4 linked regions of the Homo sapiens genome follow. The protein of the gene in region 4 interacts with the protein of the main gene of each other region in a pairwise test. Each region holds a gene or a part of one and is shown on either strand. Other genes may lie near its edges.

Region 1 (4,573 bases), on a different chromosome or scaffold from region 4:
GTCCTGAAACAAGAAGAGAAGAGGCTGAATCGGAGGCGCTTCTCATGACCACACCCAGGAGTCCGGGCCCTGGGCCTTTTCTGGGTGCTGGGAAGAGCATGGCTGCCCGTGCTGAATGTCCTTGTCTTCTGTCCCCGGTGCCTGAGACCTCTGCCTACTCAACCCATCTTTTAACTCTCAAGGACATGACCTACAGGGAGCTTCTTTGCCCCCACACTGGGCAAGGCCTCCCTGTGACAGCCTCAACTTCACCTGCTTCATCACTTTGTTACATTTACATATTTTTTTTTCCTTTTGAGACAGGGTCTCATTCCTTTGTCCAGCCTGGGAGTGCAGTGGTGCAAATGTGGCTCAACTGCAGCCTTGACCTCCAGGTCTCAAGTGATCCTCCTGAGTAGCTGGGACCACAGGCACACATCACCACATCTGGCTAATTATTATTATTATTATTATTATTATTTTAAGTAGGGACAAGGTCTCGCTATGTTACCCAGGCTGGTCTCAAACTCCTCGGCTCAGGTGATCCTCCACCTCAACCTCCCGAGTAGCTGGGACTACAGGTGTGCACCACCACGCCCAGTTAATTTTTTGTATTTTTAGAGACAGGTTTTGCCACGTTGCCCAGGCTGCACTTGAACTCCTGGTCTCAAGCAATCCTCTCACCTCCCAAAGTGCTGGGATTACAGGCATGAGCCAAGGTGCCTGACCATCTATTTTTTAACGTACATATTTTCTTTGCTAGGCTGTAGGGCCTCACACTATAGACTGTCTTCTTTACCAAAAGATCTGCCATGCCCAGGAGAGAACCAGGAGTACAGTAGGGGCATAAATATGCATATTGTATATAAATAAGTGAGTTTGCTAAATGGAAAGAAATGAGGGAGATTCTTTTTTTATTTTTACCTAGTGAGTCACCATTGGAAAGGTGAGGGAGATTGTTAGGTTCTCAGAACCATTCATAAGGCTGCGAGTCAGAATGTCAAGGTAAAAGGCTGCAAGGGTGGCAGTGTTACTTCTGCCTGTCCCTTTCTTCTGGAAATAGCTTCTAAGTTTTTGGGGGTTTTTTGAGATGGACTCTCGTTTTGTCGCCCAGGGTGGAGTGCAATGGTGCAATCTTAGCTCACTGCAACCTCCACCTCTCTGAGTTCAAGCGATCCTCCTGCCTCAGCCTCCCGAGTAGCTGGGATTACAGGCACCCACCGCCACGCCTGGCTAATTTTTGTATTTTTGGTAGAGATGAGGTTTCACTATGTTGGCCAGGCTGGTCTCGAACTCCTGACCTCAGGTGATCCACCTGCCTTGGCCTCCCAAAGTTCTAGGATTACAGGCATGAACCACTGCACCTGGCAACAGCCTCTAAGTTTTGGGGATTCTCTCTCCTTTGTTCTTTTCCATGTGGTCTGGGTAGGGCTGAAACCAGCCTCTGGTTGTGGGGTGAACTCATGCCTCAAGCCTGGGTCCATCAGAACAAAGGCATGTGAGCCCTGAGACCTTTTCCAGTGCCACAGGGAAGGAAGTGCTTTCTTTCTGGAGGTTTGTTAAGCTGCACAGATCAAAGTCTGGAGTGGAGAAGACAAGGGCCCCCACATGAAGAGAGATGCCTGAGGCAGAAAACACAAGAAAGAACAGTGCTGTGAGGGACAGAGAAAGAGTCAGTACTGGTGACAGCGTTTGGGTCTCAGGGTCCAGTCATGCTTGAAGCCTAAGTTATTATTATCCTAGTTGGTTACAGATCAGGATTAGAACTCATGCCTACAGAATTTCCCATGAGATCTCTTTATGCTCTACCTTACTGCATTTTCTATAAAGCACCCTGTGGAGGCCAAAGCAACTCTATATTGGATGCTAATCTGCCATATTGACTTCTCACTAACTCCGGTTTGGGGGAAGCCTCTAAGATCTCTGGTTTTATCTAATGTTTCTTGTGTAAGAGCACGTACATCACGTAAATCCTGCCCTTTGGTGAAACAGCCTTGATGTTCTCTTACTTACCATAGATCCCGACCCTAAGCAATTGTTCTGCACATCCCTTCTGAAGCATGTATGCCCCTTCCCTATGTATACAAGCCCTGAGTCTGGGGATCCACCATCTTGTCTCGCTACCATCCAAGACACAGACAGGGCTTCTGTTGGCAAGGCCTTATTAAGTGTTTCTTTCTGAGAAACTGAATTTGCCAGCTTCTTCCTTCAGCCCCTCAGCTTCCTCTGATTTAGGGGATAGGTTTGCACAGGCCTGCCTACCTTAAAACAGACCCTTTTCTATTCAGTTGCTTATTCCTTGATTATTACAATCCTTTGCCCCCCTCCCCCTGAAATTAAATGGTATATTATTGCATAGAGATAAGACATATAGGAAAATACTTTTAACAATGAGCACCACAACCCCCACCCCCAAAACACAGGTAATTGTCCTATTCACTGCTTAAGCTAGGTTTCTCAAAGCAGAGTCTGAAGGGTCTGGGTGGATGGAGGATTTATTTCAAGTGTGAGAAATAAAAGAGGATCTTTCTCTCACTTGGTATTTCTTTCCCATCCCCTGTTGTGACAACCATTAAAACATACTTACTTCAGTTCACTTCTCGACCAGATTCTCCAAAAGGAGAATAATTCCAGAACTGAGAGTAACATAGCATTGATGATGAGAAACCGTGATGTCCAGTAATGGACCTCCAACCAGTCCCAAGCAAACTCAGCAATCAGCTGGTATGGAAGGAAGGAGTATTTGACCAGGAACTCTCTCCACTGCTTCCACGTAGGCTCCTTAAGATCCTTAAAAAATAACACACAGACGCAAAAAGTCATGAGGACTGACTTTTACACAAAATATTGTGATGATCAGGCTAGGCACGGTGGCTCACACCTGTAATCCCACCACTTTGGGAGGCCTAGGTGGGCGGATCACCTGAGGTAAGGAGTTCAAGACCAGGCTGGCCAACATGGTGAAACCCCATCTCTACTAAAAATTCAAAAATTGGCCAGACGTGGTGGTGTGTGCCTGTAATCCCAACTACTCTAGAGGCTGAGGCAAGAGAATCACTTGAACCCGGGATGTGCAGGTTGCAGTGAGTTGAGATCGCACCACTGCACTTCACCCTGGGTGATAGAGGGAGACTGTGTCTCAAAAAAAATTGTGATGATCACAGTGAGTTCTACATTGATTACCACACACACACACACATCCAACAATCTAAAATGAAATTTCCATCCATCAACTCATCTTGTAATTGTTTTTTTTTTTTTTTTTTTTGAGACGGAGTCTTGATCTGTTACCCAGGCTGGAATGCAGTGGTGCCATCTCGGCTCACTGCAGCCTCCACCTCCTGGGTTCAAGTGATTCTCCTGTCTCAGCCTCCTGAGTATGTTCTCGTACTTACCATAAATCCCGACCCTAAGCAATTGTTCTGCACATCCCTTCTGAAGCATGTATGCCCCTTCCCTATGTATACAAGCCCTGAGTCTGGGGATCCACCATCTTGTCTCGCTACCATCCAAGACACAGACAGTGCTTCTGGGATTAAAGGTGTATACCACCACGCCCGGCTAATTTTTGTATTTTTAGTAGAGACGAGGTTTTGCCATGTTGGCCAGGCTGGTCTTGAAACTCCTGACCTCAGGTGATTTGCCCGCCTCTGCCTCCCAAAGTGCTTGGATTATAGGAGTGAACCACCGCACCCGGCCGTAATTAATCTCAAATTAAGTAAATGTTAGCAAAAAGGTTGAAATGAAATGCTTGTCATATAATTGTGGAAGCTCAGAAAAAAAAAAGCATGAATTATGAATACATTGAAATAAATTTAAATTAACCAGTTATTCTCCCATCAAGCTACCCAAATGGTAGCTTGAACCATTTCCTAAATTCAACATTGGCTATGGTAGAATAATGGTAGTTTCTGGGAAAATTACAAACACTCCCTCCTCCCTCCAAAAAAAGGTAATTTTTTTTGTGATGGCAGGAGGAGAAGCTTTTCAATTACACATATTAGCAGATAAAAAATTAGCCTGATGATGGCCAGGTACAGTGGCTCACGCCTGTAATCCCAGCACTTTGGGAGGCTGAGGAGGGCGGATTACGAGGTCAGGAGATCAAGACCATCCTGGCTGACACAGTGAAACCCCATCTCTACTAAAAACACAAAAAATTAGCCGGGTGTGGTGGCGGGCGCCTGTAGTCCCAGCTACTCAGGAGGCTGAGGCAGGAGAATGGCATGAACCCGGGAGATGGAGGTTGCAGTGAGCCAAGATTGCGCCACTGCACTCCAGCCTGGGCGACAGGGCGAGACTCTGTCTCAAAAAAAAAAAAATTAGCCTGATGAACAGGCAGAGGCTGTTGGAGCTCGTTAAAATTGAAGGGCTGGGTGCCAGGTGCAGTGGCTCACGCCTCTAATCCCAACACTTTGGGAGGGCAAGGTGGGAGTAAGGGAGGAGACCACCCCTCATGTTGTCTTATGCCCAATTTCTGCCTCCAAAGAAAGAAGTAAAAACTAAAAGGCAGAAATGAAATCCACAGGCAGACAGCCCGGCGCTGCGCTCTGGGCCTGGTAGTTAAAGATCGACCCCTGACCTAACCAGTTAT
Region 2 (5,180 bases), on a different chromosome or scaffold from region 4:
ATGATGAGGAAGGCTAGCAAATACTGTGTTCCATTGCTCTTTTCCAACGGGGCTCTACTACTTCTGGTGGAAGACACTACATAAAGGACTATGGTTTTCCTCAAGATTCAAATTAGGAGTGTGGTAAGGCAGGCAGTCATGAATATCCAGGAAAGCTATCTAGAAGCTAAGCCTTATGTTTTATATTTTGTCTCAGGGTTGGCCTAGATAAGACAGTTTGAGGTCATTGTTTTGGTAGGTACTGAAAGGAAAATAGTAGGAAAAAATAGCTTCCCTCCAAGTACCTCTATTGCTTCTACTCCCTTGCTGATTTGAACTCCCTGAAAAAAAAAATCGATATATAGATAATACAAATATATATATACAGATAATATAAATACACACACACACACACACACACACACACACACACACACATATATATATATATATATTTCCCTACTGGCTCCTAATCCCTTGCACAATAGGCCTTAGCCTGACAAACTTACTACAACTCTCTCTTGTCCATCCTTGCAGTATCAGGTACAAACTGAGAGACAAAGGATACAAACAGAATTTGATCAGCTTAGAAGCATCCTAAATAATGAGGAGCAGAGAGAGCTGCAAAGATTGGAAGAAGAAGAAAAGAAGACGCTGGATAAGTTTGCAGAGGCTGAGGATGAGCTAGTTCAGCAGAAGCAGTTGGTGAGAGAGCTCATCTCAGATGTGGAGTGTCGGAGTCAGTGGTCAACAATGGAGCTGCTGCAGGTAAGAAGGTTCGCTCAATCTGAGATTCTGGGAACACAGTTCCCTCCTGTGTCCTTGCGTTCTCATCCTGGTGGTGACACTAAGGGGTTTCTTTGGCCTTGCAGTGCCGCCTTGTCGTCCATTCTAGATGTCATGGACATGAATGACATTTTTATTAATTTATGAAGTAAGGGAATACATTTTACCTTGCAGAAAAGATCCATTATATCTAGTTATAGTCTCTAGGCCCCTATTATATGTGATCTAGTGTCAAGCATTCATCAGACTTCTCTTTACTCTGGTTAGTCACAGGTAAACACATGCATTTTCAGGTTTAAGAGCATACACATTTAAGAAATGTGTTCTATTTAAGTTTAAAATATGCTTATTTGTTATGCAAATGTTCCCTGTTAATTTTTTTTTTTTTTTTTTTGAGACGGAGTCTCGCTCTGTCTCCCAGGCTGGAGTGCAGTGGTGCGATCTCGGCTCACTGCAAGCTCCGCCTCCCAGGTTCACGCCATTCTCCTGCCCAGCATCCCGAGTAGCTGGGACTACAGGCACCCACCACCACGTCTGGCTAATTTTTTTTGTATTTTTAGTAAACATGGGGTTTCACCGTGCTAGCCAGTATGGTATTAATCTCCTGACCTCGTGGTCCGCCTGCCTCGGCCTTCCAAAATGCTGGGATTACAGGCCTGACCCACCGCACCCAGCCCCCTGTTACTTTTTTTTAAACATAAAGTGATAGAATATTGAGCCTTTTGGGGAGAAAGATGGACAAATATATAGACAGACAGTGCTCTCCTTTCTTTGCTGAATTTCCAAATATTTCCTTTTTAAGATTTGGAACGAAGCAGGAGAGTAACTGATTTTCATTTGTTGAATTGTTTGCTTTGTCTCTGGTGCTTATATCCCAGCTTTTTTTAAATTCCTTTTTCCTTTTGTCTTCTTTTTTTGTTTAAATTTAAGATTACTCTGGAACAGAGGTTCCTAAACGTATTTTACACTCATTAGTATGGCTATAATAAAAAAAGATGGACAATACCAAGTGTTTGGGAAGATGTGAAGAAATTGAAACCTTCTTGAATTGCTAGTAGAGATGTAAAATAGTAAAGCTACTTAGGAAAAACTGCTTGGCAGTTGCTCAGAAATGTAAAGAGAGTTCTCATGTGGCCTAGCCATTCCATTCCTACCTATATACCTAGAAGAACTGAATACATATATTTGTGCATAAACTTATATATGAAAGTTCACAGCAGTATTGTTCATAAATAAAACAACTCGTATCTCCTTAAACTGATGATTGGATAAGCAAAATGTGTTATATCCAAACAATGTAATATTGTTTAGCTGTGAAAAATAATGAATTAATAATACATGCTATGACATGGATGCACCTTGAAAACATTATAATTGAAAGAAGGCAAACACAAGTTCTTTTTTGTATGATTCCATTTATATGAAAGTCTGTAAGTAGCAAATCCGTAATATAGAAACTAGATTAGTGGTTGCCAGAGCTCTGGGGAAGAATAGGAAGTAATTGCTAATTAGTGTACAATTTCTATTTGTAGTGATGAAAATGATCTGGATTTACTGTGCAATGACGGTTGCACTACATCGTGAATATTTTAAAGCCTGTTAAATTGTGCACTGTAAAGGGCAAATCTTATGGTATTTGAACTACATCTCAGTAAAAACAAAAACAAAAAGGTTCCGTAGGCCCTTTTTTATGGTTCTTCCTTAAGCTCTTCACAACCCTTTGAATCGCCACCTTCACAAAAGAACACTGTGTTTATGTCATTTGTCCAGGCATTTGTCCTATTTCAGTCAGTCTTAGTTGCTATTTGGTCACTTGGAATTTAAAAAAATATTGGTAGATCAAAAATTATAAATGCTGTGGGATTAACATTTCACTTCTAGATGTTAGCTTCAAAGAATGGCAAATGGAAAACTTAGGAACTTATTCTTTTATCTGAGTAGGGACTTTGGCTATTCCTCTCCAATATGTTAAGATATAATCTGTTGGCGGGGCGCGGTGGCTCACGCCTGTAATCCCAGCACTTTGGGAGGCCGAGGTGGGTGGATCACGAGGTCAGGAGATCGAGATCATCCTGGCTAACACAGTGAAACCCCGTCTCTACTAAAAATACAAAAAATTAGCCGGGCATTTTATAATATACAAAAAATTAGCTGGTGATGGCGGCTGCCTGTAGTCCCAGCTACTCAGGAGGCTGAGGCAGGAGAATGGTGTGAACCCAGGAGGCGGAGCTTGCAGTGAGCCAAGATGGCGCCACTGCACTCCAGCCTGGGCGACAGAGCGAGACTCAGTCTAAAAAAAAAAGATATGTGCTGTTGTATTTGTGGTATGTCTCCTCCACAATCCCATCTCCTGAGAGTCCCTGTAACAGCTTTCTTTCTATATGGATTCTCATGATGGCGATCGGGATGGATGGTGTTATCATATATCCATTGTTTGTTTGCTAGAGGGACTGATACTCATTTCGTAAGAGCTGCATTCAACACTTACTGCCAAAGAACGATCTAGACAGAAAGACGCTCAACTTGAAAACTGATGCAAAAATTAGATGAGATTTTAGGTTGTTTCCCTTATAAAGGAGATACTTTGATTTTTAATGCTTTCTGTAATAGTTTTATTATATTTGGCCATTTTTATTTTTGAAAGGATGGAATGGTAGGTAGCTAAATGAGGGAAAGAAGATGGCAGTTACTATTATTTAAAATTTTTTTTCCAGGTTTCTTAAAATTTTAGATTCAGGGGGCACATTCAATTCCATGGCATTTAGTACATTCAGATTGCTGTGCAACCATTAAGTGGGATCCCTCTCTGGACTTTTTCACCATCCCAAACTGAAACTGTACCCATTAAAAAACAGCTCCCCATTCCCTTTGGTCACCACTGCTCTACTTTGATAACCACTATTCTACTTTCTGTCTCTATGACTTTGCCTATTCTAAGTACCTCATGTAAGTGGAATCATAGAATATTTGTCCTACAGGTTTCTTATAAGGGTCTGTTGCATAATGCTAGGGTTTGGGCTACATGGTACTCATTATTTTTGTTTCGTCAATATCCATTCCCCATTTTTCTGGTAATAACACCTGGAATTACTCTTGCAAGAAAGACTAGCATGTCTATTTCCATCCTTGTACTTGTTTAGACCTGAGAAAATCAGCACTATCAAGAATGAATGAGTTAATTATATGTAAATCAGCGTATCCAATCCTTACATCCCTACCAGCCACACAGTGATTATTTTAAGTTGGACATCTGACCCAATCCTGAATGCTTGTGGGTGACAAAATTGTACTGTCATTGCAGTGAAGGGAAGTTCTCCTTTTTAGCAGAAAATAATATCAGTGAAGATAATTCAAATAAAGAGATTCAAGTTGCTATCAACTAAAATCTGAGAATACAGTCAAAATATAGGGAAGAAATGAGAATTAATAGGCACAGAGAGGCCAGAATTGTGACAGAGGTTTGAGCTTCCAGAGCCATCTGTGACTAAAGTAATACCTCTCTGGCCACAACCCTTACTTTCTTCCCAGTTAAGGCAATTTTAGTTGTTGAACAACAAAACTATGCTAATACAGAGAGCAAAACCATTTATTTGGTTGTACACCAGCTGGTGTCATGAAAGAGTTAAAGCCAAATATATTGGTACATCTTGCTCAAAACAAATTAACCCACAGTGGTGATGATGGGGGAATGCAGATGACTAACAGAAGTTAAGGATGGACTGGCTTGATAAAATGTTTTAGTGTCTGGGACAGGGACTGAGTGAATATTGATACCAGTTTGACAATACGGCATAAGAAAGGAAACAATATGGCTGGAGAACAGCTTATGTTTTAGATATTCTTAGTTACTGGTGCCGTTTTTTCTTCTTTGTGGAATGTAGTATTGTACCTGTACAGAATGAAGTCTAGCTGCTTTTTTTCACAGTCCAATGAGATGCAGACAGACTTGGAAAAGAAGGGAGTTTATTTTTGCAACTGGTTACAGGGAGAAGGTCAGAGTAACTATCAGACCAACTCAGAGTTACAAAGTTTTTTTTTTCTGGTGCTTATATACATTTTAAGCTCTATGCCTTCACGTGGGAGTGCACCTACATGCAGGAGTGTTTCAATCTATATCTATCTTTAACTAGGGTCTGGGGTCTAGAAAGCTTTCTCTAGAGTCTTGGAAAGTTTCTTAATCTTAAATGGGCCCTGGTACAAGTTGTATGTCTAAGAATGCTTTTATTATTCGATCAGACTTTAAGGTATGAGAAAACCCAGGCAGGGTCTTTAAAGGGTTTGTTTTCACATTTCAGCCCTGGTACTCACTCAGGCACCAGCTTTTCCAGTTCTTTAATGTTTAACTTACGCATTCATCAAAATTATAGTAAAGGGTTAAGGGAAACTGATTGTTCTGGTTGCTAATGGAAACCTGA
Region 3 (5,180 bases), on a different chromosome or scaffold from region 4:
AAATAAATGAAACTGCCTTTGTTGCCTTCATCACAGGGAAGACACTACTTAAAACTGGGAGCAGTTACCATGACGATGAACATGCTTGCTCTAAGCACAAAAGCTCCATGTTCCTGAAGCAGTGAGGTTCCAAGGACATCATGACACCCTGGGGCCAGAGCCAAATGAACTCTGATCTGACAGATATCCAGCAAATTAACCCTCAGAGTCCAGGGATCATTTGTGAACCCAAATCCAACTTCCTCAAGAGTTCTCTGCCAACGCAGCCTGCTTGCACACAAAAAAAGCTAAATTTTAGATTAGGAGGGGAAGCAGTTAGACGTATAGGAGGGAAACTACCCACTTTCCCCTAATATATCCATTCCCACCTGAGCTGCAACTCTTGATTCCAAGAGCTCTGGTCTGGGGAAGGCCCAGGCATCTGACTTTATACCAAGCTCCCTAGGCAATTTTTTTTCTTTTAACTTTTTTTATTTAATAGAGATGGGGTCCCATGTTGCTCAGGCTGGTCTTGAACTCCTGGGCTCAAGTGATCTGCCCACCTTGGTCACCCAAAGTGCTGGGATTACAGGTGTGAGCCATCACGCCCAGCCTCCCCAGGCAATTTTGAGGCACAGGCAGGCTAGGGAACACTGAATCCAAAAATCTCCCGTGGCTGGGGAGTAGAAGAGTTTTCTAATCTGTCACTAACTGTCCAAGCAGCAAAGTAGGCTGTACAGGATGGCTGTAGGTTCTTTAAAAGATGAGGAGACAAGACCGCAGGAGAGAATTCAGGTTGGAATTGACCTGAAATCCCAAAGGGAGGGTTTACAGTCAAGCAGCTCCCCTCTTCCCTCACAGTGCATTTCTCTGATGACTGTGTCTCATCAGTTGTCCTCTGATTTTTGTGTCCCCACCTTGAAAACTGTACCAAGTCTCACCTCTATAACTTCATCTCCATATTCCAGGAACCCTCCACTTATGTGGAAATAGAAAGTGAACTCCCAGGCCAGGCACAGTGGCTCATGCCTGTAATCTCAGCCCTTTGGGAGGCCAAGGTGGGAGGATTGCTCGAGCCCAAGAGTTCAAGACCAGCCTGGGTAACATAGCAAGGCCCTATCTCTATAAAAATTTTTTTTTATAAATTAGGGCTGGGCACGGTGGCCCACGCCTGCAATCTCAGCACTTTGGGAGGCCGAGGTGGGTGGATCACTTCAGGTCAGGAGTTCGAGACCAGCCTGGCCAACAAGGTGAAACCCCGTCTGTACTAAAAACACAAAACTAGCCGGGTATGGTGGCACGTGCCTGTAGTCCCAGCTACTCGGGAGGCTGAAGCAGGAGAATTGTTTTAACCTAGGAGGCAGAGGTTGCAGTGAGCCAAGATCACGCCACTACACTCCAGCCTGGGTGACAGAGTGAGACTTCATCTCAAAATAAATAAATAAATAAATAAATAAATAAATAAATAAATAAAATAAAAAAATTAACCGAGCATGGTGGTGCACCCCTACAGTCCTAGCTACTAGGTAGGCTGAGGTGGGGAGATCCCTTGAACTCAGGAGTTTGAGGTTATAGTGAGCTATGATTGCACCACTGCACTCCAGTGTGGGCAACAAAGTAAGACCCTGTCTCTAAAAAAAGAAAAGAAAAGAAAAGAAAAGAAAAGAGAAAAGAGAAGAGAAGAGAAGAGAAGAGAAAAAAGAAAAGAAAAGAAAAAAGAAAAGTGAACTCGCACAAGGCTTGGAGTTCAGTAGAATCAGATAAATTCTGGGTACCTTTAAGAATTCTGCATCCAAGACATTCTCCTCCTCCTGGGCAAGATCAAAGAAGAGCTTATTGATAATGGTTCTTTTGCCAACCTGGATGGGAGAACAAGGTAAGAGTATGATTGTGTAGCTGGGTCATGCGCAAGGAGGAGAGTGTTGTACATGGGTCTGACTACCTGCCTGACATGCATGTCAGGCCTGTTCTCAGACCTAATTTTTCAAAGTACATCCTTTAGAGTCAAAAGACCTCTTTACTCCTGCAGGTACCCCAAGTTGGGGCTGCTGGTTTCGTGGTCACTGAAGTCATATTACTACAGACCTACACGGTTAAGTGCTCAAAAGATACCTGAACTCTAGGTGCGGAGTCACTGATGAAAAGACAGGGAAGGAGGCCAGCCAAATCTACCCAAGTGAAAACTGGCCCAGGCAACAAGTCCATCTGCCAGCTACCTGTGGGTGTAAGCAGACCTCCCAAACACTCAAGGGCACAAGTGAGGCTCAACTGGCCTTAAACCAGGAGGGTCCAAAAAAGGTCAGAGATATTGCAGTTTCAGAGCTCTTTTCACATTCCTGCTCTCTGCTAAGGAGATCTCTTCAGTTGAGGTGGTCCCACCCCAATACTCTCACCTGGATTCGGCACTGTGGGCAGGTCCGACTTGGTGCTGTCTCAAACCACTGAATTAGGCTGGAATGAAAAGCAGAACAATAGACTGATGAGCCCTGGTTTGTCTGGGGACATAAGCCAGGCAAACATTCTGACCACGAAAGGGTCTGTTCTGCTCCTCCTTGACCCAATGCCTGCCCAAATAAGAGGACAGTAGCATAGGCAGTTACAGCACCTCCCGCAAGGCCTGATGGGTACTCAGGACTCCAACCAGCTGGCCCTTTTTTTGGCCCTGTTGGCTTGGCCAAAAGCTGTCCTTTAGGCAACATTCTGGGCTTTGACTGGGGTTGGGAGAGATGATAGTCGAAGCTCAGGGGCCCTCAGAGATGAGGACTCTGATAACACCCCCATTTTAAGCTGGAATCCCAAAGACTACACTTTCAAGGTAAGGATCAACCAGAAATAAAAGTAAGTAAGGGTACAAAAATAAAGTTAGATATAAGGAATAAAATCTAGTATTTGATAGCACAACAGAGTGACTACAGTCAACAATAATCTACTGTACATTTTAAAGTAACTAAAAGAATAGGAATGTTTGTAACACAAAAAAATGATAAATGCTTGAGGTGATGGCTACTCTGTTTACCCTGAAGTGATTATTACAGTGTATCCCTGCATCAAAATATCTCATAAACCCAATAAATATGTATACCTACTATGTACTCATAACTTTTTTTTTTTTTTTGAGGTGGAGTCTTGCTCTGTCGCCCAGGCTGGAGTGCAGTGGCACGATCTTGGTTCACTGCAAACTCCGCCTCCTTGGTTCAAACGATTCTCCTACCTCAGCCTCCCAGGTAGCTGGGATTACAGGCATGCGCGACCACGCCCAGCTAATTTTTGTTTTTAGTAGAGACAGGGTTTCACCATGTTGGCCAGGCTGGTCTTGAACTCCTGACCTCAAGTGATCCACCTGCCTCAGCCTCCCAAAGTGCTGGGATTACAGGTATGAGCCACCATACCCAGCCATAAAATTTTTTTAAATTAAATTTTTTGTTTTTTTGTTTTTTACAGAATAGAGGCAGGGTCTCACTGTGCTGCCCAAGCTGGTCTCAACTCCTGAGCTTAAGTGCTCCTCCCACCTCAGCCTCCCAAAGTGCTGGAACTATTGGTATAAGCCACTGTGCCCAATCAAAAAAATTTTTTTAATTAAAAAAAAAAAAGAGTGGCCGGGCGCAGTGGCTCACGCCTGTAATCCCAGCACTTTGGGAGGCCGAGGCGGGCAGATCACAAGGTCAGGAGATTGAGACCATCCTGACTAACATGGTGAAACTCCATCTCTACTAAAAATACAAAACATTAGCCGGACGTGGTGGCAGGCACCTGTAGTCCCAGCTACTCGGGAGGCTGAGGCAGGAGAATGGTGTGAACCTGGGAGGCGGAGATTGCAGTGAGCTGAGATTGTGCCACTACACTCCAGCCTGGGCGACAGAGCGAGACTCCATCTCAAAAAAAAAAGTAAGTAGTGGTAAAAGCAAAACACAGCTGAGCTTTGCATCATCTATGCAGGTGGTCCAGCAAAGCTCAAGCCTTAAACTTTAATTAGTCTCCTACTAGTAGACTCCCCTACTCCTAGGGACCAGGGAGAAACTAAGTCCTCTCTGGAAAATGATACCATCATCCTGGCCTCAAAGATTCCTATAAGTACATTTTCTTTTCTTTTCTTTTTTTTTTTTTTTTTTTTTTTTGAGATGGGGTCTCAATCTGTCACCCAGGCTGGAGCGCAGTGGTGTGATCTTGGCTTACTGCAACCTTCGCCTCCCAGGCTCGAGCAATCCTCCCACCTCAGCCTCCCGAGTAGCTGGGACCACAGGCGTGCACCACCATGCCCAGCTAAAATTCCCATAAGTTTTCAAATACCATGTACAACATATAATCAAGAGTAACCAGGCGCAGTGGAATACTACACAGCAAGAATAAATGAGTCTACAGCTAAGAACAATATTATGAATAAATCACAAAAACATAACACTGAGGAAGAGAAGCCAGATACAAAAAGTTATATTTTGTATGATTCTATTTACACAGTTTAAAAGTAGGCAGGCCAGGCCCAGTGGCTCACGTCTGTAATCCCAGCACTTTGGGAGGTCGAGGCGGGTGGATCATCAGGTCAGAAGTTTGAGACCAGCCTGACCAACATGGTGAAACCCCGTCTCTACTAAAAATAGAAAAATTAGCCGGGTGTGGTGGCGCACGCCTGTAATCCCAGCTACTTGGGAGACTAAGGCAGAAGAATCGTTTGAACCTGGGAGGTGGAGGTTGCAGTGAGCCGAGATCACGCCACTGCACTCCAGCGTGAGGGACATAGTGAGACTCTGTCTCAAAAAAAAAAAAAGTAGGCAAAATTCATCTATGCTCTCAAAGTCAAGACAGTAGCTATCTTAATATGGGGAGGTGGAGGGAGGTGTTGGTAGGGGTTGGAAGAGCATATAAGGAGGTTTCTAGAAGGTTTCTAGAGCTGATAATAGTCTGCATTTTTTTTTTTTTTTTTTTTTTGAGACAGAGTCTTGCTCTGTCAGCCAGGCTGGAGTTCAGTGGCACGATCTCGGCTCACTGCAACCTCCACCTCCCAGGTTCAAGCAATTCTCCTGCCTCAGCCTCCCGAGTAGCTGGGGTTACGGGTGCACGCCACCATGCCCAGCTCATTTTTATATTTTTTTAGTAGAGACAGGGTTTCACCATGTTGGCCAGGCTGCTCTCAAACTCCTGATCCACCCGCCTCGGACTCCCAAAATGCTGGGATTACAGGCATGAGCCACCATGCCCGGCCAATA
Region 4 (5,180 bases):
GTGATAGATCAAAAAGCAAGTTACAAGTTCCTTTCTGTAACTTGTTCCTTCCTAGCATATACATTTACATTGAATTTAAATTAAGATTATAAAAATTTTAGTTGATGGTGGTTAGTGTATTTAAAATTCAAAATATTTTAACCAACATTTCAAGTACACTTCCCTTGAATAACAGTGTGATAATTGAAAATGTATCTAATTTGTTATCAAGAAAGAAGTAGTTAGTCATTATGGTCTCAACTTGTATTGCCCATCACTGTAGGCACAGTCACAGGTGGTTATTTACATTTAAAATAATTAAAATTAAATAAAATTAAAAATTCAGCTCCCTAGTCACAGTGGTAACATTTCAAGTGCTCAGTAGCCACATATGACTAGTAGGTACTGTATTGAACGGTGAGATATATTGGACATTTCCATCAATGCAGAAAGTGCTACTGCGCAGCACTGACCTTCAAAGGAATACTGAATAGCTATTAAAATATTGATTATAACCATATGGAAGTTACTTGAGAGACAATGTTAAGTGAAAAAGAAACAGGCTGTATAGTTTACATACTCACGTGCCACATAACAATGTTTCACTCAACAACAGACGGCATATATCATGGTGGTCCCATAAGATAATAATACCAAATTTTTACTGTACTTTTTCTATATTTAGATACACAAATATTTACCATTGTGTTACAATGGCCTATAGTGTTTAGTACAGTAACATGTTGTATAGGTTTGTAGCCTAGGAGCAACAGGCTATAACATAGCCTTCGTATGTATTAAGCTATACCATCTTGGTTTGTGTAAGTACGCTCCATGATTTTCAAACAACGATGAAATGTGTAACAACTCATTTCTCAGAATGTATCCTTGTTGCTAAGCACATGGCAATATACATACCATAATAGCAATAATGTAAAAATTCAGGTTCATTCATTCATTCATTTTATTTAATATCTACCAAATGTCAGCATTGTCTTTGGTATGCTCCAGGAAATCAAGGATGAATTAGACCTGTTTCCTGATTTTGGGGAGCTTGCAGTCCAATAGGGGAAGACAGATAAGTAAGCAGTGTGTGCTTTATAGTATTAGTGTTCTAACAGAAATCTGCTCAGGGTACTGTTGGGTGTGTAGCAAAGGAAGCTCCCCCAAAACCAAAGCTATTAATTCTCCCTAGGAAAATAAATCAGAAAAGGTATCCTAGAGGACGATTCATTTGTTCCAACTCTTACAACAACATGAACAACTGCTTGCTGGACAGACTGAGGAAGAGAAGAGGAGAAAATGAGTTGCCAGGCAGAGGGGAACTGGAGACTGACCATTTCTAAGGTAACTTTAGAACTCTATGAATGTTTTTTTTATCTGAATTGACCCAAGCAATGTGAGTGCAGAAAAGCATGAAGATATAAGTATGAGCAGGATTGCCTGGTGTGTTAGGGAGAGTCTAGGTGTGAGGATTAGATATGCAACAGAACTAGAGCTTACACCTGTGGAGAAGGTGGGATCCACTGAAAGATTTTAAACTGAAAAACAGGAGAAAAGAGCAGAAAGCTCTTTCCTAGTAACAGTAAAGTTAAGGGTTTTCTTTATAATTGTCAGTGATTTTCTTTTCCTTCCCATTATCTTAAAAATCTTTTGTAATGTGGGCATATTTGTTTTATTAATGTTTTCGAAAAATAAAAAGACAAAATTGTGTTATCTACTGGCTTTCCATGATATATTTGGCAACACTTTGGTGTCACTTTGCATTACTCTTTAATAGTAAGAACAATCATAATGTTAACTAACTAGAGGTTCAGCATCCTAAATCTGAAAATCTGAAATCCTAAATACCCCAGAATTCAAAACTTTTTGAGGACCGACATGATGTGCAAAGGAAATGCTCACTGGAGTATTTCAGATTTCAAATTTTCAAATTTGGGATGCTCAAATGGTAAGTATATGTAATGCAAATATTCAAAAATTGGAAAAATTTCCAATTCCTAAGCATTTCAGATAAGAAATACTCGACCTGTATTAACTATTGAGTTATTTTCTTGGACCAGGCACAGTTCCGAATTCTTTACACACATTAATTAATTTCCTCCTCACAGGTTACATGAGGTAACAACAGCCCCATTTTACTGATGAAGAAATTGAGACATTGAGAAGTGGAAAAATTTGTCCAATGATAGATACAAAGGTATCAAGTGGCAGAACCAGGATGTGAAGCCAAGCAAGCTAACTCAGAGCCCCACATTTTCCTTTTATCAAATTATTCTGCAATTCAAAATTTTCACCAGTTCATTCTGGTTTGCCCTTACTCATTACATTTTGGGATCATTTTGCTATTCTTAGGGCAGACTCTAGTTTAGGTGGATGAGATCAGAATATGTCTCAGTTTAAAGGAATCCAAAGGATTAACCCCAGATTTCTGCATATCACACTCACTCACTCCCTTAAATTTTTTGCTCAAATGTCTCCTTCCTAGAACACAACCTCACACAAGTAGATCCTCAATACATATTTGTAGAATGAATGAATGAACTGAACATTGAATCTTTCCTAAAGATTATATTTTACTTAGTATGCTAAGATGACTAGCCAGGAAAGTATTATTTTATTTATTTTCAAATACAAGAAATAGAAGAAATGCAATTTATATTATAATTCTATATTTAAAAACTCAATTATGCCAGAGTATTTTATATTCCAAGTATTCTAGATAATCAAAATGTAATTATTTATCTTCAGATATTATTGGTGATAAGTAGGTCATGGATAGATTATTGCTAAGCTAGCTCTAAGAGGTCAAAGCAAGTTCACTGAAATAATTCATTTTAGCATTAGATGAGAAAGGAGGCATTTTTAAGGACCAGAAATAACACAACACTGGGTGGATGTGGTGGCTCTTGCCTGTAATTCCAGCATTTTGGGAGGCTGAGGTGGGAGGATTGCTTGAGCCCAGGAGTTTGAGGCCAACCTGAGCAACATAGTGAGACCCCGTCTCTACAGAAAATTTAAAAAATTAGCCATCCATGGTAGGGCATGCCGGTGGTCCCAGCTACTTGAGGGGCTGAGGTGGGAGGATCACTTGAGCCCAGGAGGTTGAGGCTGCAGTGAGCCAGGATTGTGCCGTTGCACTCTAGCCTGGGTGACAGAGCAAGATCCTGTCTCAAAAAGAAAAAAAGAAAAGAAAAGAAATAGCACAACACTGAGGTATGCTTCTAAGGACCATGGGTCCAGTGGGTAAAGGTGGCATCTGAGAAACAGGCATCTGAGGAGAGGAGAAAATCCTTGGTATAAATTGTTCACTGGGTTTGATGTGAACACTATTGGGACAGAAAGTAGCTAACTAGCACTGTCAGAAACAAAAAACAAAAGTGAACATTTTAAGTTGTAGTCATTCGATCCACCTCTCTCAGGAAGGCAAGGTCCATAAATGAAGAAAGATCTAAAAGGCTTGCTCAACATCAGGAAGTGAAGTTAGGAACCAAAAGAAAACCTAAGGTTATATTTTCAGAATTGAAACCATCTAAATAATTATTTTATTCTTTTATAAGATATGCATTCTTTGGTCTTGAGGGGCCTTAACTATCAATTTCACTTTAAATAATAGTTTTTATAATTTAAGTAAGTTCCACTTTGTAGCCTTCATATAGAAGTATGGATTTAAATAAACTTCTCAAATTCTTTAAACACTTAAATATGCATTGTATATTTTAATCCTTGTAGTTTGAATAATTAGGGTAATTAAAAGTATTAAAGAGAGGATTATATGAAATCCATTCTTACCTGTAGGGCAAGTAAGATGCTGCTCAATGTATAGTTTGTATTCCACTTCTCAGGGTTGTCCAAAAAGTCTATACAGGGCTGACCAGTGTGTGGGTCTACTGTATTAAAATAATACATTAATATTTGCATTTATAATAAATTATTATTTAAAACTTACAAACATCAAAATGATAAGCCAGAAAAATTATCTGCATTTACTCTTCCTTTTTCCTAGTTCTTCTCTCTGTACTGAGAAGCACTATACCCATCCCTGGTTCCCACCCATTACCATGTTGTTTTAGCTGAATACATAGGTGCCCCTACAGTTTTTCCTATCCTCTCCTTTAGCAAGATGTGGCCTTGTGACTAAGTTTTTGTTGTGGGACATAAGGATAAGTGTGCAATTTCTGAGTCTTTTTTTAAAGGAAGCTGGCTTTCCTTCTTTTCTTCCCCCTTCCCCCAGACTGGAAATGGTGACAAACAGTAAATGCCTTAGTCCCAGAAATGGAATCTTCACATTGAGGATGGGCACAACCTCCCTCCAGCGTTGTCCTGTTATGTTAAGTTGGAAAGATGTACAGGAGCTTGGCATATGCCCTAACACAGTTAAGTAATTTAGTGTTTGAAAAAATAATAGAGTTAAATAAGAAAAATAAAACTGTAGAATGACTAGAAGAAACTTAAAATGACTATTTGATTTTCTTTTGGGAAAGGATCATCTAAGATGAAAGACAACTGCAAAAGCCTCAAAGGACAAGATTAATAGATCTTAAATATAAATTTATTTTAAATCATAAAAATCTCTAAATCCCAGATGTGAAAAAACAGCATAAACAAAGTTGAAAATTAATGACAAATTAGAGGAAATATTTGCAACATCTAGGACAATGTGATAGCACTGTCAATTGTATCATACGAGTCACAAAATAAGAATCAACAAAGGTGGGAAATGTTTACTTCTCAAGTATTCAAAGAAGTGCTTATTAAAATAATAGCAAGACTCTTACCAAATTGGCAAAAAAATTTTCTTCAAAGTTTCAATGGCCAGAATTGGAAGGTGCTAAAATAAGAACTTTATATGTACTTTTTGGTAGGAGTACAAATACCACCGAAAGGCAATTTGGCTTTTTATATAAAGACTTAAAACTGTACATAGCCATCTTTTGCGGGGCGGGCGGGGGCGGGGGTTGAAAGCTAGTAAATAACCCTTCTCTCCCCTCAAGTTCATATGTAATTATAAAATAGATCAAAGTATTGAAAGGTGGAAGTAAAAACATCAGCTTCATTGCACATAAGACTGAAATGGAGAACGCACTTGATGAATGGCTTTAATCAGGCTCCACAAAAGTCCCCCTGATTTAAACTTAACTCCCAAACCGAAGGCCTGCCTAAGTTTCCTGCCTGGAGCAAAAGAGACTATACCCAGTATG

The links.
Region 1: the proteins of UBE2U (region 4) and BFAR interact in a two-hybrid assay, tested with the Homo sapiens proteins (one large-scale study listed by BioGRID and IntAct).
Region 2: the proteins of UBE2U (region 4) and TRIM34 interact in a two-hybrid assay, tested with the Homo sapiens proteins (one large-scale study listed by BioGRID and IntAct).
Region 3: the proteins of UBE2U (region 4) and TRAIP interact in a two-hybrid assay, tested with the Homo sapiens proteins (one large-scale study listed by BioGRID and IntAct).

The regions. Positions count from the first base shown.
Region 1 is NC_000016.10:14,663,065-14,667,637, reverse strand, and holds part of BFAR (bifunctional apoptosis regulator), read right to left. Parts: intron 2,770-4,573; coding exon 2,567-2,769; intron 4-2,566; coding exon 1-3. UniProt on the Homo sapiens protein: Membrane-bound E3 ubiquitin ligase that plays a role in several processes including apoptosis regulation or reticulum endoplasmic stress. Has anti-apoptotic activity, both for apoptosis triggered via death-receptors and via mitochondrial factors.
Region 2 is NC_000011.10:5,634,115-5,639,294, forward strand, and holds part of TRIM34 (E3 ubiquitin-protein ligase TRIM34), read left to right. Parts: intron 1-516; coding exon 517-747; intron 748-5,180. Other genes in the region: TRIM6-TRIM34 (tripartite motif-containing 6 and tripartite motif-containing 34), read left to right, coding at 517-747.
Region 3 is NC_000003.12:49,845,771-49,850,950, forward strand, and holds part of TRAIP (E3 ubiquitin-protein ligase TRAIP), read right to left. Parts: intron 2,431-5,180; coding exon 2,373-2,430; intron 1,839-2,372; coding exon 1,755-1,838; intron 1-1,754. UniProt on the Homo sapiens protein: E3 ubiquitin ligase required to protect genome stability in response to replication stress.
Region 4 is NC_000001.11:64,209,431-64,214,610, reverse strand, and holds part of UBE2U (ubiquitin-conjugating enzyme E2 U), read right to left. Parts: intron 3,870-5,180; coding exon 3,772-3,869; intron 1-3,771. UniProt on the Homo sapiens protein: Catalyzes the covalent attachment of ubiquitin to other proteins.